Linked DNA regions of Homo sapiens. The protein of the gene in region 2 purifies or fractionates together with the protein of the main gene of each other region. This does not show direct contact. Each region holds a gene or a part of one and is shown on either strand. Other genes may lie near its edges. The genes, in order: CUL2, GLMN, CUL7 and CUL4A.

What was found.
Region 1: the proteins of GLMN (region 2) and CUL2 purify together in Homo sapiens (co-immunoprecipitation; 5 studies listed by BioGRID and IntAct, with this or other methods). This does not show direct contact.
Region 3: the proteins of GLMN (region 2) and CUL7 purify together in Homo sapiens (affinity purification with mass spectrometry; 5 studies listed by BioGRID and IntAct, with this or other methods). This does not show direct contact.
Region 4: the proteins of GLMN (region 2) and CUL4A purify together in Homo sapiens (affinity purification with mass spectrometry; 6 studies listed by BioGRID and IntAct, with this or other methods). This does not show direct contact.

The regions. Positions count from the first base shown.
Region 1 is NC_000010.11:35,080,318-35,087,341, forward strand, and holds part of CUL2 (cullin-2), read right to left. Parts: intron 1-7,024.
Region 2 is NC_000001.11:92,295,964-92,303,703, forward strand, and holds the start of GLMN (glomulin), read right to left. Parts: upstream 3,025-7,740; 5' UTR 2,962-3,024; exon of another isoform or gene 2,592-2,961; coding exon of another isoform or gene 2,523-2,591; intron 2,067-2,522; coding exon of another isoform or gene 2,037-2,066; coding exon 1,998-2,036; intron 1,567-1,997; coding exon 1,441-1,566; intron 1-1,440. Other genes in the region: putative RNA polymerase II subunit B1 CTD phosphatase RPAP2, read left to right, coding at 3,111-3,183, 4,231-4,276, 5,513-5,627.
Region 3 is NC_000006.12:43,037,105-43,043,863, reverse strand, and holds the end of CUL7 (cullin-7), read left to right. Parts: exon of another isoform or gene 1-233; coding exon 234-416; exon of another isoform or gene 417-683; coding exon 684-790; exon of another isoform or gene 791-806; intron 807-879; coding exon 880-1,062; intron 1,063-2,739; exon of another isoform or gene 2,740-2,788; coding exon 2,789-2,949; intron 2,950-3,117; coding exon 3,118-3,334; intron 3,335-3,437; coding exon 3,438-3,708; intron 3,709-4,876; coding exon 4,877-5,022; intron 5,023-5,171; coding exon 5,172-5,298; intron 5,299-5,379; coding exon of another isoform or gene 5,380-5,391; coding exon 5,392-5,597; intron 5,598-5,852; coding exon 5,853-6,176; 3' UTR 6,177-6,247; downstream 6,248-6,759. UniProt on the Homo sapiens protein: Core component of the 3M and Cul7-RING(FBXW8) complexes, which mediate the ubiquitination and subsequent proteasomal degradation of target proteins. Core component of the 3M complex, a complex required to regulate microtubule dynamics and genome integrity.
Region 4 is NC_000013.11:113,240,592-113,247,615, forward strand, and holds part of CUL4A (cullin-4A), read left to right. Parts: intron 1-2,376; coding exon 2,377-2,569; intron 2,570-3,818; coding exon 3,819-3,923; intron 3,924-4,357; coding exon 4,358-4,468; intron 4,469-4,560; coding exon 4,561-4,646; intron 4,647-5,364; coding exon 5,365-5,472; intron 5,473-7,024. UniProt on the Homo sapiens protein: Core component of multiple cullin-RING-based E3 ubiquitin-protein ligase complexes which mediate the ubiquitination of target proteins. As a scaffold protein may contribute to catalysis through positioning of the substrate and the ubiquitin-conjugating enzyme.

The DNA.
Region 1 (7,024 bases), on a different chromosome or scaffold from region 2:
TTATTTGGAGGTTAAGGGTGCAATGTTTTTTGTTGCACTAAGGTTTGACCCACAGAGCTCTAAGTACTCCATAAACAACATTTCCATCATGACTTTCTGGCTTTAGAATTCCTATTTTTATTTATTTATTTATTTATTTATTTATTTATTTATTTATTTATTTTTGAGACAGGGTCTTGTTCTGTCACCCAGTGCAGTGGTGTGATCCTGGTTCACTGCAGCCTTGACCTCCTGGGCTCAAGTGATCCTCCCGCCTCAGCCTCCTGAGCAGCTGGGACTACAGGCACACACCACTGCACTGAGCTACTTTTTTGTATTTGTAGAGATGGGGTTTCACTATGTTGCCCAGGCTGGTCTTGAACTCCTGAGCTCAAGCTTCCACCAGCCTTGGCCTCCCAAATTACTAGGATTACAGGCGTGTGCCACCGCACCCAGCCTAGAATTTCTAGTAGGTTTTTTACAAAAACAAATGAGTTGGGGAAAAAAGAGTGAACAGACATATGGTGTGTGCCAAAATGTATACTGCAGGAAAACATCTTGAAGTCTCAAAAAGGGTGACACGGTGGGGAGTAGGGAATGTATTCATAATACAATAAGTTACAGAAGCCATTTGCACCCAGGTGTGGTGGCTCACACCTGTAATCCTAGTACTTTGGGAGGCTGAGGTGGGAGGATCACTTGAGCCTGGGAGTTTGAAAACAGCCTTAGCAACATAGACAGACCTGGTCTTTAAAAAAAAATAAAATTATAGTAGCTGGGCCCTCTGGTAACATGCGCCCGCAGGGAGTCCCAGCTACTCAGGAGGCTAAGGTGGGAGCTTGGCTTGAGCAAAGGAGACTTCAAGGTTACATTAAGCTACAATGGCACCACCACACTCCAGCCTGGGCCAAAAGACCAAGATCTTGTCACAAAAAAGCAGCTACCTGCTTCCAAAAATAAACCCACTGCACCAGAATAAAAGACCCCTCTCTGCAATGAACTTTAGACTCCCATAAGACTGCACAGCCTATACTTTGTTTCTTAAGTTTTCACATCGCTCTTATCAGCTTGAAGTTTAACGCCATTTTCACTTGCTTTCTCATTTTTTGTTCAATAATCTAGTCAACGAATTTAAGAAACTGACATTTTTAAAAAAAACTATTCTCATATATGTATCCCCGATCTCAGGTAAATTAGAGAATTTGAATTTCTGAGTCCTTCATGACTAGGCAAGCCCATCGTGTATGAATACTAGACAAAGCTAGAACCAACCAGCCTTTACACAAATTATCAAAACATTGAGAACAAATTTTTTGGCTGTGTGCAGTGGCCCATACCTACAATCCCAGCACTTTGCGAGGCCAAGATGGGCAGACTGCTTGAGCCCAGGAGTTCGCAGCCAACCTGGGCAACATGGTGAACCCCGCCTGTACAAAATACAAACAGATCAGCCAGGTGTGGTGGCATGCACCTGTAGTCCCAGCTACTAGGGAGGCTGGGATGGGAGGATCACTTGAGCCCAAGATGTGACCGCACCACTACAATCTACTGTATTTGCTGACTGCTATATAATACATTAAATCCTGCCTATGTCCTGACACTGCTATAGAAGACACAGGCATGGAAGAATAATTAAAAAGGGGATACAGTTATGGCAGATGCATATCAATTAACCCTCTAGCAACTTTCTTGACACCTCCTGTTTACAATCCCAAAGAGAGCCAGTGAGTTGGATCAAGTTTGTAATCCCAGCATTTTGGGAGGCCAACGTGGGAGGATCACTTGAGCTCAGGAGTTCAAGACCAGCCTGGGAACACAGCAAGACATCATCTTGACTGAAAAAAAAAAAAAATTTGCCTGCAGTGAGTTATGATCACACCACTGCACTCCAGCCTGGGCAACAGAGCCAGACCTTGTCTCTCAAAATAAAAAGTTCCGATATATGCTACGACAAGGATTAACCTTGAAGATATTACGCTAAGTCAAATACACTAGACACAAGGTGAAAAATATCTTATGGTCCTATTTAAACAAAAGTATGTATGTGGGCAAATTCATAAAGACAGAAAGAAGGATGAGATGTTATCAGATGCTGGGGGAAGGGGAAATGGGGAGCTACTGCCTAATGGTTGTACAGTTTCTGTCTAGTAACGAAAAAGTTTTGGAAATGGTGGTTTTGGAAATGGTGGTGAGGGTCACAATGACACTGTAAATGCAGTTAACACCACTAAACTATACCCTTAATGACGGTTAAAATGGTAAATTTTATGTCATGTATGTTTTAAGTGCTTAAAAACTAGATCACAGGTACAAAGTTCTGATGTCAGAGAAGTATCTGAATCTCACTGCAAAATGCTCTCTAAAAATTTTTAAATGGATGCATTCTAATCAAAATAATACTTGGTACTATGATGACAAAATACTATTTTTGGTTCAGACAGACTTTTATCAAATAAAAGAGAAATATCTTGAGATAAAATTTTTCTGAAGGCTCAGGACTACTTGGGGATCTTTCTCTTGATGTCACATTATTCATTATTTTGGTAACTATACACTTACATAATTACAAAGGTATCTTTGGCTGAGCATGGTGGCTCATGCTTGTAATCCCAGCAGTTTGGGAGGCCAAGGCGGGCAGATCACTTGAGGTCAGGAGTTTGAGACCAGCCTGGCCAACATGGTGAAACCCCATCTCTACTAAAAATACAAAAATTAGTCGGTGTGGTGGCAGGTGCCTGTAATCCCAGCTACTCAGGAGGCTGAGGCAGGAGAATCGCTTGAACCCAGGAGGCAAAGGTTGCAGTGAGCCAAGATCGAGCCACTGCACTCCAGCCTGCATGAGAGCAAGACTCCATCTCAAAAAAAAAAAAAAAGAAAGAAAAAGAAAAAAAGAAAGCTATCTTCTATTTCCCACCGTCAGAAAATAGCAGTTATAAATAAAGGGGAAAGGCAAGCATTAATCCTGTGGTAATGAGTTGTAATCAAAGGTATCATTTACAAACTCATGGTTTTGAATACACAAACACACATATACATGCAGATAAAAAGATATAAACATAGATGTTTGTGTATGCATGGTTGAATATACATATATTTCTAGCTCTGTTCACTGAGAAGGGCCTAGGAGGAATGACACCACAGTGGCAATGGGCACACATAGAACTTAGATCTTGGTTTCTAAATATCATTCTCCAAAAAAAGGAACCAGAGCTCCTCCTTGGAAAAGTGATTGATTCCAGGGCTGAAGCAGGAAAAATACAAGTTGAACCTAGAACACCTATGATGTCAGAAAATAGAAGGTGCTTTCCCCCCACAAAGAGGGTGGGGGCATATCGAAAGGACACAAGTTAAACTAAAGGTCAAAACTGGAACAAATCAGAGCAACAAAATAATGAATGATAGGATTAGATTATAAACCATAGGCGGGTCACAGTGACTCATGCCTGCTGTAATCCCAACACTTTGGGAAACCAAGGCAAGAGGACTGCTTGAGCCAAGGAGTTCAAAACCAGCCTGGAGCATAGCCTGTACTTTCTCTCCTTCAACTGAATTAAAACAAGGCTGAGATATTTTTAAAAATTTACATATGGCAAATCCATGTTTCATTCTTTGAAAAGCAACCTACAATAGAGAAAGACTAAGTCACTGAATTAATAGATGTAACTAACATTATTTATAATGTTAAACTATATAAAAGAGGCCAGGCACAGTGGCTCACACCTGTAATCCCAGCACCTTGGAAGGCCAAAGAGGGCGGATCTCTTGAGGTCAGGAGTTCAAGACCAGCCTGGTCAACATGGCAAAACCCTATCTCTACTAAAAATATAAAAATTAGTCAGGTGTGGTGGCAGACACCTATAGTCCCAGCTACTTGGGAGGCTGAGGCAGGAGAATCACTTGAACCCAGGAGGCAGAGGTTGCAGTGAGCTGAGATCGCGCCACTGCACTACAGCTTGGGTGACGAGTGAAACTCTGTCTCAAACAAGCAAACAAGACACAGTATCAGTCTGAATTTTTAATTCTCCAGAATAACAAAGCTTAAAGCAAAAGGAAATATTCCACCTCTCCTCCTCCAAAAGAAAAATCAACAGGGTTCAAGGCACCCCGGAAGTTTCTACAGATCCAACACCACAATCTTAACCTAACACTACTACTGTCTCAAAACTTTTAAGAATCAAAGGGATTGTCTCCAATAAGCCTTTCCCAATGAAAAGCCAAATATAAAGTACTGATATAGAAATCTATACATTCTTAAAGGTAACCCAAAGATTATGCTAACTGCAATATGACAGATACGTTACCAGTAAGATTCAAACCCAGGCACAGAGCCAAATCACTCTGAATAGATATTGTGATTAACTGATTACTGAGAGAGGGTTCAGTCATACATCTCATAGATCAATAACTTGTTATAAATCTCATAACATTCCAAATCGCTGCTTGTTTTTCCAAGATTTAACATGAGCCAGTCATAAGTCCTCATAATATTAAGATTCTAGGGCTGATCCTGTCATCAATTTACTTAAAAACAACTGATAGTTGGACAGGCCTGGTGGCTCACACTTGTAATCCCAGCACTTTGGTAAGCCGAGGCAAGTGAATCATGAGGTCAGGAGTTCAAGACCAGCCTGGCCAACATGGTGAAACCCCGTCTCTACTAAAAATACAAAAAAATTAGCTGGGGGTGGTGGTGGGCGCCTGTAATCCCAGTTACTTGGGAAGCTGAGGCAGGAGAGTCTCTTAAATGCCAGAGGCGGAGAATGCAGTCAGCCGAGATTGTGCCACTGCACTCCAGCCTGGGTGACAGTGTGAGACTCCATCTCAAAAAATAATAATAATAAAAAATAACTGGCTGGGTGTGGTGGCTCACACCTGTAATCCCAGCACTCTGGGAGGCTGAGGCAGGCAGATCACAAGGTCAGGAGATTGAGACCATCCTGGCTAACACAGTGAAACCCCGTCTCTACTAAAAAAATACAAAAAATTAGCCAGGCATGGTGGCGGCTGCCTGTAGTCCCAGCTACTTTGGAGACTGAGGCAGGAGAATGGCGTAGACCCAGGAGGCAGAGCTTGCAGTGAGCTGAGATCGCGCCACTGCGCTCCAGCCTGGGCGACAAAGCGAGACACCGTCCCAAAAAAAAATAAAAATAAAAATAACTGTTAGGGCCAGGCGCGGTGTGGCTCACACCTGTAATCCCAGCACTTTGGGACACTGAGGAAGGCGGACCACAAGGTCAGGAGATCAAGACCATCCTGGCTAACACGGTGAAACTCCATCTCTATGAAAAATACAAAAAATTAGCCGGGCATGGTGGCAGGCGCCTGTAGTCCCAGCTACTCGGGAGGCTGAGGCAGAATGGTGTGAACCCGGGAACCAGAGACACAGCCAGACTCTGTCTCAAAAAAAAAAAAAAAAAAAAAACTGATAGTGCATATGAAACATTGCTTTCAATCACAGCCAGACATTTTTCCAGAATACACAAAGAACAGGCAGATAAGGTAGAACACAAAACAAACAGTGCAAACTTTTGTAAAGTCTCACAAAAAGAAACAGCTTTTTACAGCGAGGGAGGAAGGGCATAAGGGTTGAAAAACGGTTGGGTACTATGTTCAGCACCTGAGTGACGGGATCATTGTATCCTAAACCTCAGCATCACACAATATACCCGGGTAACAAACCTACGTGTGTACCTCCTGAATCTAAAATGAAAGTTGAAAAAGATAAAAATAAAGAAACAAGCAGCCTGGCCAACATAGTGAAACCTTGTCTCTACTAAAAATACAAAAATTAGCTGAGAGTGGTGGAGGGCGCCTGTAGTCCCAGCTCGGGAAGTGGAGGCTGCAGTGGGCTGAGATTGAGCCCCTGCACTCCAGACTGAGAGACTCTGTCTCAAAAAAAAAAAAGAAACAAGAAACAAGGCCGGGCACAGTGGATCACGCCTGTAATCCTAACACTTAGGGAGGCTGAGGTGGGAGAATTGTTTGAGCCCAGGAGTTCGAGACCAGCCTGGGCAACACAATGAAACTCTCTTAGTTCTGTCACCCAGGCTGGAGTATAGTGGCTCACTGCAGCCTCCACCTCCTGGGTTCAAGTAATCCTCTCACCTCAACCTCCCTAGCAGCTGGGATTACAGGCCTGCACCACCACACCTGGCTAATTTCTGTATTTTTTGTACAGACAGGGTTCGCCATGTTGCCCAAGCTGGTCTCAAGCTGCTGGGCTCAAGTGATCCACCCACCTCAACCTCCCAAAGTGCTGGGATTACAGGCCTGAGCCACCGTACGTGGCCGGAAACAGCTTTTTAAACAACTCCACACCTGTAGGTCAAAAACTTAACGAGACCAGCCTGGCCAACATGGTGAAGCCCCATCTCTACTAAAAATACAAACTCCAGCCTGGGTGACAGAGCGAACACCATCTCAAAATAAATAAATAAATAAATAAATGAACTTAACAAGGGCAGGGACCAAATCAGAAAATGCTGCAGTACTCCACAGTTTTATCCTCTTTCTACATTCTCTGTGTTCTCATCCTATTTCATAACTTAACTACTATTTAACACTCTAAAAAATACAAATGTCAAAGTAAAGTGTACTACTGTTTCTGCAAAGTGGGAACAATATTTGCTTATATGTCCACAAATATTTTTTTCCAAGGAGATCTAAGAAACAGCTAACAATGTTTGGCTCCAAGGAAAGCTGGATGACAAGGGTACAAGAAGTGGAGGGAGATTTTCATTCTATTCCCTACTGACAATTTTATATTTTGGTTTTCTGTTTGTTTTAGAGACAGGGTCTCACTCTGTCACTCAGGCTGGAGTGCAGTGGTGCAATCACAGATCACTGCCACTTCCAACCTGGTCATCTGGCCTCAGCTTCCCAACAGCGGGTACTACAGGCGTGCGCCACCACGCCTGGCTAATGTTTTTTAAATTATTTTTTGTAGACATGGGGTCTCACCATGTTGCCCAGACTAACATCTTAAATTTTGAGCCATGTGAATACAGTTTTTGTTCAAAACATTAGTATACCAATAAATAAATGC
Region 2 (7,740 bases):
TTAAAAAACATAAGATTTATTATATTGGAGGTTACAAAGTTATCATAAACATGTATCAAAAACTAAATAAAATGTCCTATTTTAATAAAAAATAAGAAGGGTATAAGCCATTTGAACTACTGACTAAGAGATGTTATAATAATATATGATTAAAAAGTTTTAGGAATCCCCCAAATCCAATCAAGATGCCCTGGAGAGAAACACAGATCAACATGATTACACTGTGATATCAAGAAAGAAAACTTCTAATAAATAAGTAGCACTGCAAATGAAGAAAGAGTGTGTACCTAGAAGGAAGATGGTCTTTGTATTAGTCTGTTCTCATGCTGCTATGAAAAAATACCCAAGCCTGGGTAATTTAGAAAGAAAAGAGGTTTAATTGACATGCAGTTCCACATGGCTAGGGAGGCCTCAGGAAACTTAACAATCATGGCGGAAGGCACCTCTTCACAGGGCAGCAGGAGAGGGACTGAGTGCCAACAGGGGAAATGCCAGATGGTTATAAAACCATCAGACCTGGTGAGAACTCACTCCCTATCATGAGAAGCATGGGGAAACCACCCCCATGATTCAATCACCTCCACCTGGTCCCATCCTTGACACACAGGGATTATTACAATTCAAGGTGAGATCTGGGTGGGGACACAGAGCCAAACCATAGCCGTCTTCCTTATAAGGAGTATCCAAAGACACAAAATTTGGCAGGATGTTGCCAACACAGTGTCCCAGGAAAAAGTTATTCCTGATCCACAAATAAGATCCTTTTCCATTGTGGAGGATGATTTCTCAAACCATTGTAACTGGATGATACTGGCTAGTATAATGACATATCGTTTTCCTCCTGTTCTGATTCTATGCACATAAAATACTGTTTTAATTAAAATTTGGTTTTCCATACACATTTGGCTGGAGGAGAATGGGCTGATCACCCAAAATGAATATTTAGCCTGCTTGATATGTATATTTCTCATTGTAAATTAATGACTCAAACACCATTTTTGGACTCCCTAAACCAGAAGTAATTCTGTTTCTTCTAAAAACTCTTTACTTCAACTATAGCAATTATTTATTTTGCCTCATTATTGTTAGTTGTTTACATGTTTATGTTTGACCAGATGGTAAAAACCTTCAAGTATATGACTGTTTCTTTTCTTTTTTTTTTTTTTTTTTCTGAGACAGGGTCTTACTCTGTTGCCCAGGCTGGTCTCAAACTCCTGGGCTCAAGTGATCTGCCTGCCTTGGCCTCCCATAACGCTGTGATTACGAACGTGAGCCACTGCGCCTGGCCTAAATATTTCTAATTCTTTTTTTGTTTTCAGTTCCCTACTGTGAAAATTTAAGTAGATTCTTAAATGTTTGATGGATAAATGACTGGATGAATAGCATCATGTGATTATTCTCTTCCCAAGACTGAAAAGTAAACACCAAGATTGTACGCACCTTATTCTTTTCATTTTGAATAATTTCTAATAGCTGGTCTGTGTGCCCTTCTTCTATGCATCTTTGCCCAGCTAACTGAAATAGGCCAAAATCCTCTTCTTTAAAGTCTTGCTCTTCTAGGATTTGCTGGCAAAAAAAAAAAAAACCCAAAAAACAAACAAAAAAAAGTATATGCAAATAAAAATTAAATACAATAACTTCTTGATTTATCTATGAAAAAAGGAAATCTGTTTAAATTCTAGATAAATGTAACGTAAATAACACACGTATCAAAATTAGGATTACCCTAATAAATACTTTAATAAGTGACCTTGAAATCTACTGTACCAGTGAAATCTATGAAAAGGATCAGGATTAAAATGTAAAAGGTTATTTAGATAAGTATGTCACCTGGAGAAATAATCCAATCTGCCTCCCCCACTCATGCTCTTTACAGGTCAAAAAAAGCAAGGATTAAAGAAGATAAACAATTTGAGTGACCACAAATATAATTAAAAACAATCTGTGCCCTTCCCATATTTTGAAAGGTATTTAATTTTACAAAAATTAATACTTACACATCTCTTTATTATAGACTGAAGTTCCTCTACAGCCATTCTTATTTCTCCTAGTTTCGATGCTAAAATCTACAAATACAAAACACACTGTTAACTATCCGTGATATTACACTTAAGTATTCAAAAGTTATGTTTCAGTGTGATAAATTATTAGTAAATACAATAAAGAAAATGGAAAGTTTTTGTTGTTGTGTTTTTTGGTCCAATAGCATGCTAGGAGAAAATGTAAAGTTTTAAAGTTGAAATGTTATTACTGAATCTTAGTATGTTTGCCTAAGAAAATAAAGTGTTTTTTTAGAAGCCCTTATTGCATGTTTTAAGTTTTCTAGGAGCATAGTTTTGAAAGCTACTTTGAAGGAAAAAAAAACAAAAAAAACCTCTCGAGCACTCCCAAGAGGCGAGGCATATACGAACTAAAGGGCTTTTAAAAAGCAAAGCACTTCTTTTCTGAAAAAAAATTTCCAAAAGGTGGACCTGAAATCAAAATTCTAATCATCAGGGGATTTTTCATTTTTAATGTCTCACCTCACAAAAATTGGGGTGCAACACAAGCTTATCTATAGGGGGTGAAGATTCAGATGCCCTCCATTCCATTTCTCTCTAGGAGTTGCAGTCCCCAAAGTGATCAATCCAGCTAGTGAAATCACTGTATCACACGGAGACAAGACAACGGCGGCCTTCAGGAGGAGACCATCGCTTCTCCTGGCGGCAAGGCTCGGCCCCAAGCCCTCAGTAGGGGCGCGAGTCAGCCCGGTCCTCAGGGCAGCGCGCTGGAAGGCGAGTGAACACCCCAGCGCGCGTGCGGGCTGCATCAGAGGAAGCCATGTCTTCCGATTCCTGCTCGCCTAGGTGGGCAGGCTCCACCACCTCGCGTGGCCTAGTCGGCCCGCAGCACCAAGTCCGCCGCGGCTCACGGCCAACCGCGAGCCCTGGCCACCCTGAACCTCTCCACAACTCCACTTACCGGCCAGAACCCTCGCCTCTCCCAGCCGCCGCCACCTCCTCCGGCGTCTTAGCCCGCTCTTCTGGCCCCGCCCCGCGCTACGCGTAGGGAGGCGGGGCCTCGGGGCGAGACGCCGGAGCGTGTCCCCGTCCGGCAGACTACTCTCCCCCATGGCGGACTTCGCTGGGCCGTCTTCTGCCGGCCGCAAGGCCGGGGCTCCCCGCTGCTCTCGAAAAGCCGCAGGTAGGAGCAAGGATCTCTTCCCACTTTTGGACCCTGAAAGCTGGGCCCCGATCTCGAGTTATAGACCGCAGCGCGCGGGCGCTCCTGAAAGGCTGCTTCAGGGGAGGGGTTCTCCCAGGTAGAGTAGGCCGAAAGCTTCCCACCGCCGTCCGCACCTCCTGGGAAAGATTTCCTGGCCGCCCCTCACCCCTTTACGCCAGTGTTCCAAGATTTCCCTCACGCGGACTGTGGCCCCAGCCTCTGAGACAAAGGACAGTGGAGGCCCCGGGAACCCAGGCCTGGGGTCCCCGGGTTTCGGGGCAAGTGACTAGGGCAGCGTTGGCAGCTGGCCTTGAACCTAGGACCGGTCCTCCTTTCCAGATTGCTTGGGTGCCCAGTTCTTTAAGGTGCCGGACTCCCCTCTTCCCCCAGAGAGGACGTTTGGCAGACGGAGAGAGGTTTCCCCTAAAAGTACCCAGATCTCAGATTTTCAGGAGTGGTTAATTAAGCAACTATGATACAGAAGAAAATTCAATCCCCAAAGAGATACATTTTAACCAAGAAAAATTAGACAGTAATCAATTTGCAAAAACAAATTGCTCTCCCTTCCTATTTCATTTTGATTTACACACGATTGGACATAAAATATGTGGAAAAGAAGAAAAGGTGGTCTACAGTTTGTTATTTGTGTAGGAATCTATCTTGTACCTAATGTGTTTGTGTAGACCTGACCTACTGCCACCATGTGTAGCTTAACTGCGGGGATGCATTTTGAGAAATAAGTTGTTAGTCGATTTCATCCTTGTGTGACCATCATCGAGTGCACTTACACAAACCTAGATGGTACAGCCTACTTACACACTAGGCTATATGGTACAGCCTATTGCTCCCAGGCTACAAACCTGCACAGCATGTTACTGTACTAAGTACTGTAGGCAACTGTATATCTAAACATAGAAAAGGTACAGTAAAAATACAGTATTTTAATCTTATGAGACCGCTGTCTGTATGCTGTCCGTCGTTTACGGAAATGTCATTATGTAGCACATGACTGTATTTTTATTGTAGGTACTAAACAGACAAGTACTTTGAAACAAGAAGATGCTTCTAAAAGGTATGACAGCTACATGGACAACTACATTGGCATATCTACTTATCTTGTATTACTTGTACCAATTTTAAAACAATAATGGTTACCTTTTTTTTTTTAGAGAAAATTATCATGAGAGGGAAGGGAAAGATCTGGGAAGGCCTATAAATTCTCACATAGACTGTTACATTCCTCTACTCCAGGCTTTAAGAAAACCAAACTAAGCACTCAGACTGCTAGTGAAGGAATGAGTGTCTGTAGAAGGTGTTTGTTTTTCACCGCTTCAGGTACACTCTCCTTTTATTGCTTTATATGCCAGAGACTCACTCTCCAAGTTTCGCTGTCACTCCAAGAAACCTTTTCTGTTCTTTGTTACATCAAGTCCAGATTTTCATTAAAAAGCTGTCTTGTACTAGTTCTGGTTCTAAAAAGGCAAGATATTACCACATATCACACAGAGTTTCTAGAAGAGGAGTAGAATGTGAAGGGGATTAAAAGCATATGTAGCTATGATTTTTATTTTGTGAAGACTCACTAATCTTATATTGGCTTTGGTCTTAATTTACTCATTCTTTCAAAAATTATTTATTGAGTATAAGATATGTCGGACCTGTGTTAGGCTCTGAAGATATGGTGAACAGAATAGACACAGTTCTTGCCTAGTGGAACAGAGGAATAAATAATAATAAATTAATTAGTTAATTAACATAAACAAATACATAATTACAAATTGTGATAAGCACTATGAAGGAAAAGACTGTGATGTTACGAGAAGGAATAACGAAGTCTAATTTAGTTGGAGGTGGGTGGCAGGGAGGTTGGCTGTGAGTTTTCAGCGAAAGCCTTATGCTGAGACCTGCGTGCTAAGTAGACATTAACCATACAAAGAGTATATAAAGACTTATGTATGTGCAGTGCAAAAAGTAGCTTGTTTCCTTTTTGAAAAGTATTGGATCAAAAGTAACAGCATTAGAAAACAGAAATTTGGCCGGATGTGGTGGCTTATGCCGGTGATCCCAGCACTTTGGGAGGCTGAGGTGGGAGTGTTGCTTGAGGCCAGGAGCTCGAGACCAGTTTGAGCAACATAGTGAGACCTTGTCTCTACAATTAAAAAGAAATAAATATTTTTATTCAAAAAATTTTTTAAATATATTTAAATTTAAGTGGCAAAATAGTGAGTTAGGTTAGTATTGTATTTTAAAACATGGAATGTTGGACATGAAGCTTTTAAGTAGATTAAGTTTCTCTTTCAAATTTTAGGAAAGCTGAACTAGAAGCAGCTGTGAGAAAGAAGATTGAATTTGAGAGAAAAGCTCTACATATTGTTGAACAGCTTTTAGAGGAGAATATTACAGAAGAGTTCCTAATGGAGTGTGTATGTGTTAAGTTGACAAATTATTAGTTTTGTAGTATAACATCTTTAAATCTGTGCAGCATGAAACTTCTTTGCATTATTAGAATCTTTGAATTTGTTCTGAGTCATTAGATGCAGATAACAATCCATATAATTCATGCATTTAAAAATAAACAACTATCATGCATTCCTTGTATAATGACTTTAAAATGCACTAATGAAAAATAAGTACGTAACAAGGTGATGACACGTAATGTATATTTCAAAATTAATAAGAGTGGATTTCAAATGTTCTCACCACAAAGAAATGATAAATATGTGAGGTGATAGATATGTTAATTAGCCTGATTTGCTCAATGTATACATGTGTTAAAACATCACATACTACCCCACAAATATATACAATTATTATTGTCAATTAAAAAGCAAAAGAGGCCAGGCACAATGGCTCATGTAATCCCAGCACTTTGGGAGGCTAAGGCAGGCGGATCACTTGAGGTCAGGAGTTCGAGACCAGCCTGGCCAACATGGTGAAACCTCGTTTCTACTAAAAATACAAAATTAGCCAGGTGTGGCTCATGCCTGTAATCCCAGCTGCTCAGGAGGCTGAGGCATGAGAATCACTTGAACTCAGGAGGCAGACGTTGCAGTGAGCTGAGATCACACCACTGCACTCCAGTCTGGGCAACAAGAGTGAGACTCTGTCTCAAAATAAGTATATAAATAATAAATGGGAAAAAAGAAAAATGAGGATGGGGGAGAAAAAAAAAAAAAGAAAAAGCAAATATATTTTACCCTTAGTCATAGTTCTTTTAACCAGTCTGCTAATATCACTTGATTTTCTTCAATTTGTTCTAATGATTGCAATTCCAGTTTTCTATATTCTGTGTTGTGTTATTTTAAGTAACAGAAGAATATTATTTTTGTCAATGTAATTTCATCAATTTTCTTATTTCAAAAACCTGAAATACAGCTCATTTATGACTCAACATAAAACGGGAGAATTAAATTCCGCATTAAATTTTTTTTTTTTTTTTTTTTTTTTTTTTTGAGACGGAGCCTCACTCTGTCGCCCAGGCTGGAGTGCAGTGGCGGGATCTCTGCTCACTGCAAGCTCCGCCTCCCGTGTTCACGCCATTCTCCTGCCTCAGCCTCCCGAGTAGCTGGGACTGGGCGCCCACCATTACGCCCGGCTAATTTTTTTGTATTTTTAGTAGAGATGGGATTTCACTGTGTTAGCCAGGATGGTCTCGATTTCCTAACCTCGTGATCCGCCCGCGTCGGCCTCCCAAAGTGCTGGGATTACAGGCATGAGCCACTGCTCTCGGCCCGCATTAATTTTTTTTTGGCCAGGCACGATGGCTCATACCTGTAATCCCAGCACTTTGGGAAGCCAAGGCGGTAGGATCGCTTGAGCCCAGGAGTTTGAGACCAGTCTGGACAACACAGCGAGACCCTGTCTAAATAAAAATTTGAGAATAAAAAAATTTTGAAACAGCTTTACTACATTAAAATTTTGAATGGAAATTTCTCTTTATATTTTTGTAATCCTTAAGAGGGCAAATTAAAACTCAAAGCTTCTATTACAAAAACACTTCTTAGTGTAGTTGATAGATCTTTTTCTAAACAGGAATATGAACATGACAATTCATATTTTTATTGACACAGGTAACTGCATCAGAATCTGCATATTTGATGACACCAGAAAAGACAAAGGCAAATATGCTTCATTTGAAACATAAAACTTACATCACTCTCAATAAAAAGTATTTCTGTCTCTGTGAAAACAGAAAAACTTGTTAAAAGATCTCAAAGTTATGAACAAGAATCAAAATTATTTGATCATGAAGATGTCAAAGGAAAATATTTGATGTTAGCTTATAACCATCACCTCACCACTCTGTACAGATTTTTCAGAAGTAGGAAAATTTTGCACAAACTGTGTTCTGCAGTAACAATGACACTTTTGAAATACTTTGTTTTTAAAGATTATGCTTTAAAAAATAGGTAAAATTATATTTTATTATTTTGTGATTTAGTTAATTTTTTAAATAATACTTTTTCAAAAATAAAAGATACTGTTGTCATTTAGCTTGTGTATAGCTATAGCATCACTTCTTCCTCATGCCTCAGA
Region 3 (6,759 bases), on a different chromosome or scaffold from region 2:
TAAAGATGGGGTCCTGCTATGTTGACCAGGCCAGTCTTGAACTCCTGCCTCAAGCGATCCTCTCATCTCAGCCTCCCAAAGTGCTGGGATTACAGGCGTAAACCACCCTACCTGGCCCCCCTTCCTTGTATCATTCCGTCCAGTTGCTCTATCTCCACACTCCTGTTCAGCCCAACCACTCCCACTTCCCTGCAGACATGGCTGTGCCTTGGTTTGTTTATCTCACCCTCTAGATGAGGATGGCATTAGCCCCCTGGGTTGGCTGCTGGACCAGTACCTGGAGTGTCAGGAAGCTGTCTTCAACCCCCAGAGCCGCGGCCCAGCTTTCTTCTCGCGGGTGCGCCGTCTCACTCACCTGCTGGTGCATGTCGAGCCCTGTGAGGCACCCCCTCCTGTGGTGGCCACTCCTCGGCCCAGTGAGTAGTGGAGATTCAGGTGGGGAGCTCTAGTCAGGAGCGTTTTCCTGGGCCCCATGTGTACACCACAGGCTTCTGTCCATCCCCATCCTTCCCCTCCCTATGGGCTCAGCCTGTTCATCTTCCAGGTTTGTGTCACCTCCATCCATGAACATCATTTTGGGTGGCAGCATGTCAGGAAAGGCCTCAGGGAACCCCCTTGGATGGGGACTTGGGAGTGGAGGGGCTGCACCCTCCTTGCCTCTGCCACTTTCTTGGTCTCTACAGAAGGCAGAAACAGAAGCCACGACTGGAGCTCCTTGGCTACCCGGGGCCTTCCAAGCAGCATCATGAGAAACCTGACGCGCTGTTGGCGGGCCGTGGTGGAGAAGCAGGTGGGCAGGAGCAGGCCTGCGGGAGAGAGGGGACACCATAATGGTGGCATGTTGGGTTGTGTCTTCATGCTCCTGCCCCTTCCTTCCAGGTGAACAATTTTCTGACCTCATCCTGGCGGGATGATGACTTTGTGCCACGCTACTGTGAGCACTTTAATATTCTGCAGAACTCAAGCTCTGAACTGTTTGGGCCTCGGGCAGCCTTCTTGCTGGCGCTGCAAAATGGCTGTGCGGGAGCCTTGCTGAAGCTCCCTTTTCTCAAAGCTGCCCACGTAAGCCTCTACCCTTGCCTCATCCTTGGGTCTCTTCCGACAAACTCTCCCTTCCTCACCTCCTCCAAATGACCCACCCTTCCATTCCCATTCTATGATGAACATATGTTAGTATATAGCCATGTTATAAGAAGTTTAAAAAATTGAAAAAAATAAATAGTGGCCAGGTGTGGTGGCTCATGCCTGTAATCCCAGCACTTTGGGAGGCCGAGGCAGGCAGATCATCTGAGGGCAGGAGTTTGAGGCCAGCCTGGCCAACATGGCCAAACCCCATCTCTACTAAAAATACAAAAATTAGCCAGGCATGGTGGCACATGCCTGTATTCCCAGCTACTTGGGAGGCTGAGGCAGGAGAATCGTTTGAACCCAGGAAGTGGAGGTTGCAGTTGCAGTCAGCCGAGATTGCACCACTGCACTCCAGCCTGCGTGACAGAGCTAGACTCATCTCAAAAAAAAGAAAAAAACAAAAAAACCCCCCACAATTGATGAGCTAAAATGCAAGAAGCACCCTGGAAAGCAGGGTACAGAGCAGCAGGAACATGAGGCTCCTTGTGTAGCCTCCAGTCCTAGTTTATCAGTGACACTGCATCAGGACCATCTTTGTGTATGTAACTTACCTCCTTGTGTCCGTCTTTCTTTCTCTCTCTCTTTCTCCCTTCCTGCCTTCCTTCCTTCCTTCCTTCCCTCCTTCCCTCCTTCCCTCCCTCCTTCTCTCCCTCCCTCCCTCCTTCTCTTTCTCTCTTTCTCTTTCTTTCCTTCTCTCTTTCTTTCTTCTTCCTTTTTTTTTTTTTTTTTTTTGAGACGGAGTCTCGCTCTGTTGCCCAGGCTGGAGTGCAGTGGCTCGATCTCAGCTCACCACAACCTCCGCCTCCCAGGTTCAAGCGATTCTCCTGCCTCAACCTCCCAAGTAGCTGGGATTACAGGTGCATGCTACCACGCCCAGCCAATTTTTGTATTTTTAGTAGAGACGGAGTTTCACCACATTGGTCAGGCTGGTCTCGAACTCCTGACCTCGTGATCCGCCCGCCTCACCCTCCCAAAGTGTTGGGATTACAGGCATGAGCCACCTCTCCCTTCCCTTCCCTTTCCCTTCCCTTCCCCTTCCCTTCCCTTCCCCTTCCTTTCCCTTCCCTTCCCTCCCCTCTTTTCCTCTCCTTTCTTTTTCTTTCTCTCCCTTTCTTTCTCTTTCTTTACTTCTTTCTTAACAGGGTCTTACTCCCTCCCACACTGGGATGCAGTGGTGCAGTCACAGCTCACTGCGGCCTCAACCTCTTGGGCTCAGGTGGTCCTCTCAGCCTTCTGGGTAGCTGGGACCATAGGCGTGTGCCACCATGCCCAGCTAATTTTTTCGTATTTTTAGTAGAGATGGGGTTTTGCCATGTTGCCCAGGCTGGTCTCCAACTCCTGGGTTCAAGCCATCTGCCTGTCTCAGCCTCCCAAAGTGCTGGAATTACAGGCGTGAACTGCGCCTGGTCTTATTTTCTCATTTTGAATGATTATTATTAGTTTGATTTTTTAGACACAATGTGAAAAGACACTTTCCATAATTGTTAATATTGCTAATTTGTACAATGGTTAATGATCTTATAAAATAGTTGTATGAAAGCACCAACCACCTTAGAAAGCTGCCAGCATTCATATCTACTTTCCAGACCCTCATCCCTCCTCCCCACTCACCTGCTCTGCTCGCTCATTCATGGCTTTCCTGTGCTCTGCCATTGCTCAGGTGAGTGAGCAGTTCGCCCGGCACATTGACCAGCAGATCCAGGGCAGCCGGATCGGTGGAGCCCAGGAAATGGAGAGGCTGGCACAGCTGCAGCAATGCCTGCAAGCTGTCCTGATTTTCTCCGGCTTGGAGATAGCCACCACTTTTGAGCATTATTACCAGTGAGTGTGGACCTAAGGAGCGGGAGCTGGCGGGAGGCAGGATGATGGTGGCAGAGCCAGCTCATGGGCCTGGAAGTCTGGGATAGAGGCAGGCTGGAGCCTTGGAGTGGGAGGCTGGGCCACACTGGTGCCCACACTGAGGCTTGGCCCGGGCTGCATGCACTGCAGGCACTACATGGCGGACCGTCTCCTGGGCGTGGTCTCGAGCTGGCTGGAGGGGGCCGTGCTGGAGCAGATCGGTCCCTGCTTCCCCAACCGCCTCCCCCAGCAGATGTTGCAGAGCCTGAGCACCTCTAAGGAGCTGCAGCGCCAGTTCCACGTCTACCAGCTCCAGCAGCTGGATCAGGAACTCCTGAAGCTGGAGGATACAGAGAAGAAAATACAGGTGAGTGCCTTGGAAGGGATAAGCAAATAAGAGGGTAGGGGGAAGAGGGGCGTGGAGCAGACTGGAGGAGGCCATGGCATCTGGGAACCCTGTGCTCCTTCAGGTGGGCCTTGGGGCCAGTGGCAAGGAGCACAAGAGCGAGAAGGAAGAGGAAGCTGGGGCAGCAGCAGTGGTGGATGTGGCGGAGGGAGAGGAGGAAGAGGAGGAGAATGAGGACCTCTACTATGAAGGGGCAATGCCAGAAGTGTCTGTGCTTGTCCTGTCCCGACACTCCTGGCCTGTTGCCTCAATCTGCCACACACTGAACCCCAGAACCTGCCTGCCCTCCTACCTGAGGGGCACTTTGAACAGATACTCCAACTTCTACAACAAGAGTGAGCAGCCAGGCAGAGGGACTGGGGACTGGGGAGAGGGTGGGCTGCTAGGAAAGGACCTGGGGTTGGGGGCAGACCCTGATGTTGGGAGGCTTGATGTAAAAAGAGATAGTCTTTGGCTGGGCACAGTGCTCACGCCTGTAATCCCAGCACTTTGGGAGGCCGAGGCAGGCAGATCACTTGAGGTCAGGAGTTCAAGACCAGCCTTGGCCAACATGGTGAAACCTCGTCTCTGCTAAAAATACAGAAATTAGCCGGGTGTGGTGGTGTGTGCCTGTAGTCCCAGCTACTCGGGAGGCTGAGGCAGGAGAATCACTTCAACCCACAGGCAGATGTTGCAGTGAGCCGAGATCGTGCCACTGCACTCTAGCCTGGGCGACAGCGAGACTCCATCTCAAAAAAAAAAAAAAAAAAAAAAAAGAGTTGGTCTTTTAATTTACATTTTTAATTTTTGTTTTTATAGATTCAGGGAGAGATAGTCTTTAGGGATAAGAATTCCCTAGGCCATGGGAAAAACAGTGGTTTTGAGAACAAAGGGCAGGAGCTTGGTGGCTGGGGGTGGCAGGTGCTGTCAGATACCTGATCCCCAGACCATTGCTTTTTCTGTTCTAAAATAAGACCTGGGAATCTCTTTGTGGGTGACGGGGAGGATGGAGGCAGGAGGCACCTGAGGCCACCAGATATGAGTAGGTGTCTGGCTCTTTTCTGGTCAGTCACCTGTCATCCTAAACTCCCCATCGGGGGCTGATCCCTGAGCTGGCAGCAACACAGGAGGGGGAAGAGGCTCAGACCTGTGGTCAGGGCGCCTCCTAATAGGGGAGACATTGTTTCCTGTCATAATATTCCAGCTTGATAAGAGCCCCAGTCCTTCCTCCCTTCATGGTTTTGTCTCCCTAAAAACACATGGGGCAATCCTCGAAGGCACTGATGAGAACCTGCTTGGCACCAGGCTAGGCATAGGATAGCTCCCAGATCCTGAGGCTTGCCATAGAGGCAGGCCCAGAGAAGGCTGAGATCTGGAAGCTCAGACCAGAAGCCCCAGTGTCCATAAATGCTGGGGTCACACGCCTTGCAGAGATAAACAGAGCGTGACCAGCGTGCACCCTCCCTCCAACACCAACTCCCTCCTTTCACCTGCTCTTTGTCTCCCTCCCCCTTCCTGGTCCAGGTCAGAGCCACCCTGCCCTTGAGCGAGGCTCACAGAGGCGACTGCAGTGGACGTGGCTGGGCTGGGCTGAGCTGCAGTTTGGGAACCAGACCCTGCATGTGTCCACCGTGCAGATGTGGCTACTGCTGTATCTCAACGACCTGAAGGTGGCCCAGCCCCGCTGCACCTCTCTCCTGTCTCCCACTTTGTCCCTTGCCTCTCTTCCCAAAACCTTGACTCCCTCTGCTTCTTCCCTCCATCCTCTTCTCTCCACTCCTTGGGGAGGCCCTGAATGTCTCCCATCTGTTCTCTGAAGGCGGTCTCTGTGGAGAGTCTGCTGGCGTTCTCAGGGCTCTCCGCAGACATGCTCAATCAGGCGATTGGGCCCCTCACCTCTTCAAGAGGCCCCCTGGACCTTCACGAGCAAAAGGATATACCAGGAGGTATGCACTTAGGGCCAGAGGGGCCTCTGCTCTGAGGCAGGGCCAGGCTCCTCGTGGGCTCTCCACTGAGTGAGTGATCAGCATTTATTTCAGGGGTCCTCAAGATTCGAGATGGCAGCAAGGAACCCAGGTCGAGATGGGACATTGTGCGGCTCATCCCACCTCAGACGTACCTGCAAGCTGAGGGTGAAGACGGCCAGAACTTGGAGAAGAGACGGAATCTTCTGAACTGCCTCATCGTCCGAATCCTCAAGGCCCATGGAGATGAGGGGCTGCACATTGACCAGCTTGTCTGTCTGGTAGGCAGGGGTGGGCACAATGGGTGACAGATCTTTGCTGGGGTTGGGGGAGCAGTCTACAGGACAAGGTGGGTGCACGTGTGGTGAGGCACCTGGTTCACTGTGTAGCCTGTAGGAGTGTGAGGAGTGAGGTCGGGATGTACCTCGTGTCCTTGGGGCATCCTGTCCTAGCAGCTGGTGGTTGGAGTGGAAGCTCAAGCAAGGAGGGGTCAGCTGCCTCTAAACTACCGCTTCTCCCTTCCTCCCCCACACCAGGTGCTGGAGGCTTGGCAGAAGGGCCCGTGTCCTCCCAGGGGTTTGGTCAGCAGCCTTGGTAAGGGGTCTGCATGCAGCAGCACTGACGTCCTCTCCTGCATCCTACACCTCCTGGGCAAGGGCACGCTGAGACGCCATGACGACCGGCCCCAGGTGCTGTCCTATGCAGTCCCTGTGACTGTCATGGAGCCTCACACTGAGTCCCTGAACCCAGGCTCCTCAGGCCCCAACCCACCCCTCACCTTCCATACCCTACAGATTCGCTCCCGGGGTGTGCCCTATGCCTCCTGCACTGCCACCCAGAGCTTCTCTACCTTCCGGTAGCCCTAGACTTGGGGTCAGGGGAAGGTAGAGCTGGAGCTTTTACAGAAATAAAACCCAAGAGTTTGATTATATGACGTGTGTGTTTGGCGACTGCTAGAGATTTGAGTGGGGAGGTGGGAGGGTTTTCCTTGCTGGTGGAGAAGGAGCCCTTGGCACTGAGGCTGTCGCATGATATGCCAAGGGTCTTGTTAGGGTGAGGATGGTAGACTGGGAGAAAGGCAGAGGGAGTCAGGTGTGACTTAGCACCCCCTCTAGGCAGAGATTGAGAGGACCAGGCAGGATGATGGCACTCAGCCCCTTCTCAGAGGGTGTGTGGTCAGAAGTGCTTTCATCTGGCAGGCTGGAGATCCAAGCCCAACTTGGCCACTCACCAGATGGTTTGTAACTTGGGCAGATTATCGAGCAGGGTTTAATTCTCCTCGTTTGTGGAACTGGCCCAGTCACTGTGGGACTGCGACAAGTAACAGGTATGGAAGCATTTGACGTGGTGAATGAAGGCATTGCCAGTGAGTCTCTATTTTGGCCACCATTGCCAACAGTGAATGTGGTTCCTTGGTGCCTTCCCTAAGTAAGACTGACATGA
Region 4 (7,024 bases), on a different chromosome or scaffold from region 2:
ACACTAAGAGGAAAAAAAGAAAAGCCAATCACAGATACTTAACGTGTTATTGCATAACATTTTGGAAATGACAAAATTTAGAAATGGAGGATAGATGAAAAGTTACCAGGGTGTAGGGATGGGGCAGGGTGTGTGGTTATAAAAGGCCCCAGGAGGTAGCCTTCTGCGGGAACAGTCGGGGTTTCGGCCGAGGTCTAGATGTGCACACCCAGATGAGTTACGAGTAAACTGGGCCATGTGAAAAAGACGGGTGCGCTGCCATGTCAGTACCCCAGCTGAGACACTGTTGTGTAGTTTCGCAAACCGTTGCCATTGGAGGAAACTGTGGAAATAAAGACACTGGGATTGCTTTGCTATTTTTACTATTATGCAAATCTGTCATTATCTGAATAAAGATTTCCGTTAAATAAAAAAGATAAAGCTTACATGCTGCTTTATGGAATAATCAGACCTGAAGTCATGTATCAGTCCAGCTGTGGAAAGCCAGCACTCACAGCACCCCTCCCCACAAGGTCTCGTACAATGATAGAATTGGAACTTATAACTGAGTCACACTAAATTGGCCATAAAGCTACTGAAGATTTAGGTTTTTTGCCAGTGAGACAGTCTTCAGGGGATGGGAATGTGTGCTAAAAACTAGGAAAAGTTCACCTTTGCAGTTTCCAGTCTGGGTAATAAAAATCAGTGAGTGACCATCACCCCTGAGTGTCAGCAATAAGTAGTTATACTGTAACAAAATAGTAGTTTATATTCAACTCCACATGCCGTTATCAAAATAAAGCTGGGCCTTGTAGTGTATGTGCATTATTTCAAAATGCAGTTAGCACCAAAGGGTGTAGAGTAAGAGGTAAGTCCCTCCCACACCTGCTAGCCACACACCGCCCCTCTCTGGGAGAGTCTGTGCCCTTTCTGTTGGCATCTTTTTTTTTTTTTTTTTTTTTGAGGTGGAGTCTCACTCTGTCATCCAGGCTGGAGTGTAGTGGCGTGATCTCAGCTCACTGCAACCTCTGCCTCCTGGGTTCAAGCAGTTCCCTGCCTCAGCCTCCTGAGTAGCTGGGATTACAGGCTCCCGCCACCACACCTGGCCAATTTTTGTATTTTTAGTAGAGATGGGGTTTCACCATATTGTCCAAGCTGGTCTTGGAACTCCAGACCTTGTGATCCACCCGCCTTAGCCTCCCAAAGTGCTGGGATTACAAGCGTGAGCCACTGCGCCCAGCCTTCTCTTGGCATCTTTCCACCAGCCAGCTACCTCGCGTGTGTGTGTGATGTGTGAGTGCACATGTGCATTCTATTGAGACGAATTTTTTAAATCCAATCATTGTATTCAGTTCCTCTTCGGCATATATAGTTTATATCATCAAATGTTAACTGTTTATTAGTGCCCTACACAGACTTTTAGGAATGTTTAATATAACAGTTTTAAATTAAAAATACAAACTAGGCTAGGCACAGTGGCTCACGCTTGTAATCCCACCACTTTGGGAGGCCAAGGCAGGCAGATCATGAAGTCAAGAGATCAAGACCATCCTGGCCAACATGGTGAAACCCCGTCTCTAGCTGGGCGTGGTGGTGTGCACCTGTAGTCCCAGCTACATGGGAGGCGGAGGTTGCAGTGAGCCGAGATCACGCCACTGCACTCCAGCCTGGTGACAAAGCGAGAGTCCATCTCAAAACAAAAAAAAAAAAGTACAAACTAAAAAAGTGAGCTTTTCATGGTTAGAAGTGATGGAGAAGGAAAACTAGCCAAGAAGTCCCAAGAGGTATATTGAATTAATAGGAATTAACTTGTCTTGGAGGAACTTACACATAAACATTCTTTAAAAAGCAACGGACATTTTCCAGTCGTTTGTAAGTTCTCTCAGAAACAGAATCGTAAGACCAATGCATTAATTGTGTATTTAATTGTATATTCACACCAAGCACAGGGGCTCATGCCTGTAAACCCAGCACTTTGGGAAATCACAGTGGGAGGATTGCTTGAGGCCAGGAGTTCGAGACCAGCCTGGGCAACATGACCCCGTCTCTACAAAACTTTAAAAAGATGGGCCAGATGTGGTGGCCTGAGCCTGTAGCACCAGCTACTCAGGAGGCTGAGGTGGGAGGATTGCTTGAGCTTGGGAGGTTGAGGCTGCAGTGAACCGTGATTGCACCACCGCACTCCAGCCTCGGCCGCAGAGTGAGGGCCTGCCTCAAAAAAAAGTGTATTCACTTAATTTTTGAAATGTGAATTCAATTTGTGAAACTTTTAAAGTTATTGAGTATTTACTACTAAGAGTAATTTATGTTAAACTATCCTGATTATATGATAGCAGGAGAAGATACTGTTTGCTATTGTAAACATGTTGCTGAGTTGGTATTGATTTGCTTTTGTAGACTTTTGGAACAGCGATCGTAATCAATCCTGAGAAAGACAAAGACATGGTCCAAGACCTGTTGGACTTCAAGGACAAGGTGGACCACGTGATCGAGGTCTGCTTCCAGAAGAATGAGCGGTTCGTCAACCTGATGAAGGAGTCCTTTGAGACGTTCATCAACAAGAGACCCAACAAGCCTGCAGAACTGATCGGTAGAAAAATATTTGTTTTTTTTGTTTGTTTGTTTTTGAGACAGTCTCACCCATTTCTAGACAATTTTTTAATATGGGAAAATAAGGCAAAATCAACCAAAATGTTCAAGCTGCTCAAGGGGTGTGTGGAAAGCGTTTTTATCAAGTCTTATTAGGACACAAATTTAAAAACCGACACACCTGCATGCATGGGTGGAGGAGGGCATTTCCATAAGGGAAGATGAGGTAAGAATTTAGAAAAGAAATGATGCTTGACTTCGCCAAAGAAGGGAGGGGTGATCACCATCTTTGTATCCTCTAATCCATATTAAAATAGGATAAAACCAGATGAGATCTCAAATGATAATACTATTTTTAAGCTGTACAATTTTTTCACAATAATATCAAAATATATTTCAGAATTCATAGGCTTTCTCTAGTCAGTAAAATTTTTTTTTTAATTCGAAGGAGAAAGGGGGCAAAGAGAGCTGAAATACGACGATACTAGATTGACTGTTGATTACTGCTGAAGATGTAAGATGGAACATGGAGCTCATTGTGCAATTGTCTGCTTTTCTGTGTGTTCAGAATATTCCATTACAAAATGTTTAAAAGAAAAAAACTAACAAAAACAGCAACAGAAGGAATTCAGGAGGCAGTTTACTTTGGCTTTTGTTCCTCTGTATCATTTGTGGTTTCTCTAAAGCAAAGGGATGTTGAGCTCTTGGGAGTTTGGGCTTCTGGAAGTCTTGGGTTCTCCCATCACATGGGGACTTTGGTCCTCCCTCCCAAGCCACCTGACGATGGCTTGTGCAGCCTCAGAAACAGGAAGCCCGAGTAGAAATGCTTTCACCCTGCGTTGCCACCTTGGATGCTCTGAGAAAGTCTTTCTCTTTGAGAATGTCTCCTCTGCATTCATGACACCAGATCCTAGAAATAGGCACTCCAGCGTCCGGGGCAGTCACGTCCTGAAACCTGAGCATGTATTTGCTGAAGTCATTTTATTTTGAAATTCAGAGATTGCATTTAAAGATAAGAAAGATATTTAAACCTGCTTTAAACATTCAGTCCTGGCTTCATTAAAATTTTGGCAAGTATTTACTCTCACTTGACTTGAGAAGTACTTACCTTAGAAAATCAGATATTTGTTTTTTTGTCATATAGTCATTTTGGGAAGGTTCCAGAATGTTCCTGTACAATGTTGCTAATAGAAATTGAAGATGCTCTCTTTTTCTAGTTTAGAGTATTTACTATATGTTTATGCTCACAGCAAAGCATGTGGATTCAAAGTTAAGAGCAGGCAACAAAGAAGCCACAGACGAGGAGCTGGAGCGGACGTTGGACAAGATCATGATCCTGTTCAGGTTTATCCACGGTGAGACTCGGGCACTCAGAAAATGCTGCATAATCAAGAGGTGTAAACAGGCCCTGCTTTCCCAGAGGAGGTTTAGCATGAGAATGTCAGTATCAGTAGAGCCAGTTTGCATTAGAATGAACACTTTTCATCCTTGCTAACATGGTGAAACCCCGTCTCTACTAAAAATACAAAACATTAGCCAGGCGTGGTGGCAGGCGCCTGTAGTCCCACCTACTTGGGAGGCTGAGGCAGAGAATGGCGTGAACGCGGGAGGCGGAGCTTGCAGTGAGCCGAGATCGCGCCACTGCACTCCAGCCTGGGCAACAGAGCAAGACTCTGTCTCAAAAAAAAAAAAAAACACTTTTAAGGGTTTTCAGCAGTTGAAGTTTGAAGTTTAACATTTGCTTATCAACTCTCTGATGTCTTGATTATTCTCGTCTGGTTATAAATAGGTAAAGATGTCTTTGAAGCATTTTATAAAAAAGATTTGGCAAAAAGACTCCTTGTTGGGAAAAGTGCCTCAGTCGATGCTGAAAAGTCTATGTTGTCAAAGCTCAAGCATGGTAAGTATGTGGGGCCTGGGCTCCTCCCCTGTAACTGAGGGTTGCTGCCCCGTGTGTTACCCCGATCTCACTCCCTCCTTTGCTGTGTCCAGAGTGCGGTGCAGCCTTCACCAGCAAGCTGGAAGGCATGTTCAAGGACATGGAGCTTTCGAAGGACATCATGGTTCATTTCAAGCAGGTGAGTTGTGTTTCTTAGGTAAAGCGGCTTTTTAAAAAGTATCTGTTAGTGTGGTGGCTCATGCCTGTAATCCCAGCACTTTGGGAGGCAGAGGCAAGAGACGTTCTTGAGGCCAGAAGTTCAAAACTACCCTGATCAACATAGCAAGACCCAGTCTCTACAAAAGAAAAATTTTTTTAATGAACAGGTAGTCCTAGCTACTGGGGTAGGGCTGAAGTGAGAAGATCACTTGAGCCCAGGAGTTTGAGGCTGCAGTGAGCCGTGACTGCACCACTGCGCTCCAGCCTGGGCAACAGAGTGAGACCTTGTCGTGGATGGGTGGATAGATAGATAATACATAGACAGAGATAGCAGTACCTTGTCATAGATAGATAAATAGATAAGGTAGGTAGATTCAATAGATTAGATAGAATGAATCTCACTCTATGTAAGAAGAAAATTACACTATTAACGTTTCACAAGTAAATTTTAAAAGAAGAAAAAGAAGATCTAAACGTGTGGCAAGAATTTTATTTCAGTGAGTCTGGTGGTGACACCTGAAGAAGGGAAAAAGGCAGTCCTAGTGAGGCATTGGGTTTCATGGAATACATTCTGGGGACTGAGATAAATTCTAACACAGATGAAACTTTATATTGAAAATTACACGGTTTATTTTGTTTTAGGTTAATTATGTTTTATTACTTTCTCAAAATGATTGTCTTGGATTTCTCTGTTTTAGCATATGCAGAATCAGAGTGACTCAGGCCCTATAGACCTCACAGTGAACATACTCACAATGGGCTACTGGCCAACATACACGCCCATGGAAGTGCACTTAACCCCAGAAGTAAGTGTGCAGAAAGCATGCTGTCCGCTCCCGCTGTCATGCCCTTACCAGGCACAGATATGTTGCCTTCAAGAATTGTTGAATGGGGAGTTTTTAAAAATAGCCCACTCAGTCCAAAATCAAAGTGCTCTTATGGTCTTTGGAAATGTGCTTGAGAAAGTGACCACTTTTGTCACCTTCTGTGGCTCCTCCCAGTGCAGCCTGTGTCCACCTGCTGACCTGCAGGGGGCCCATGAGCACAGGCACTTGTTTTGGAAGTTATGGCTTATTAAGCTGCGGTTCTTGTCTGGTTGTTCTTTCTTTCCATTGTAGACAGTGCTGAAGTCTTGGGAATGGCATTATTTAGGGCCTTCTTTGTCAGCCACTACTTTAGCTACACTAAACCCTTCAGTGGAGGGTTTGCACGCCGGAGGTAGAATTCTGTGCTCAATGAAGTTAACATCAGCAGGAGATACAATACATGCACCATTCATTTAATACCAGGCGAAGGGAAAGGGCTGAGACCAGCCTGCAATCATGGAAGACTTCCTGGAAAAGGCGTCCCTTAAGCCTGATATCAAGTAAAGATGAATGATGATTTCGTCAGCTGAGAAGGGAAGAAAGACACACAGCTACAGTGGTAGGACAGTGTGATTCCTTTTCTTATCCATCATGAGGGTCATGGCCAATGCTCCTTTAACAAAAGACAAATTAGGAGGAGAAAACCTTAACAAATTTATTTAATCAAAGTTTTATTTAACACATCAGGCTTCAGAAATGAAGACCAAAGACCCAGGGAAGACTGTCCATTGTTATGCTTAGGTTTGATAAAGAATGGGCAGCCATGTAGAAATAGGTGTGTTAGTCTGTTTTGCATTGCTGTAAAGGAATACCTGGGGCTGGGTAATTTGTAAAGAAAAGAGTTTTCATTGGCTCATGGTTCTGCAGGCTATACAAGCATGGCACCTGTGTCTGTGCAACTTCTGATGAGGTCCCAGGAAGCTTTTACTCAAGGTTGAAGGCAAAGGGGGAGTAGGCGAGAGAGAGGGCGCAACAGGTGGTGGGGGAAGGTCCCAGACTCCTTAACAATCAGATCTCGTGGTAACTCATTACCACAGGGAGGGCGCCAGGCCATTCATGAGGGATCCACCCCCATGACCCAAACACCTCCCACCAGGCCCCACCTCCAGCACTGCAGATCACAGTTCACCGTGAGATTTAGAGGGGACAGACCCCCAAACTCTTATCAATGTGACTGGACAGAAGGGTACCATCTAACAGTAGTAGAGTAGCGGGGAAACCAGTAAGGCCTGTCTGTTCAGATTCTTCTTGGCCTCACTGGGCAATGTTCTTTCCTCCCAGGTGTAGGGCAGGACACCTCTGGAACAAGAGTCTTATGACTTAACTATCAGCAAGGTAGTTCAGAGAACTTCTTAATATCCAGATCCTACACAAAAGGGCATGGGAAGCATCGAGTAGTATCTCCAGGCTTTATGGCTGGCTTTGGGCAAGAGGGGTTTGAGTTTTCTCTGGCCTGCCTTGGGGAAGAAGAGTTCTCATTCCAGGAGAACTT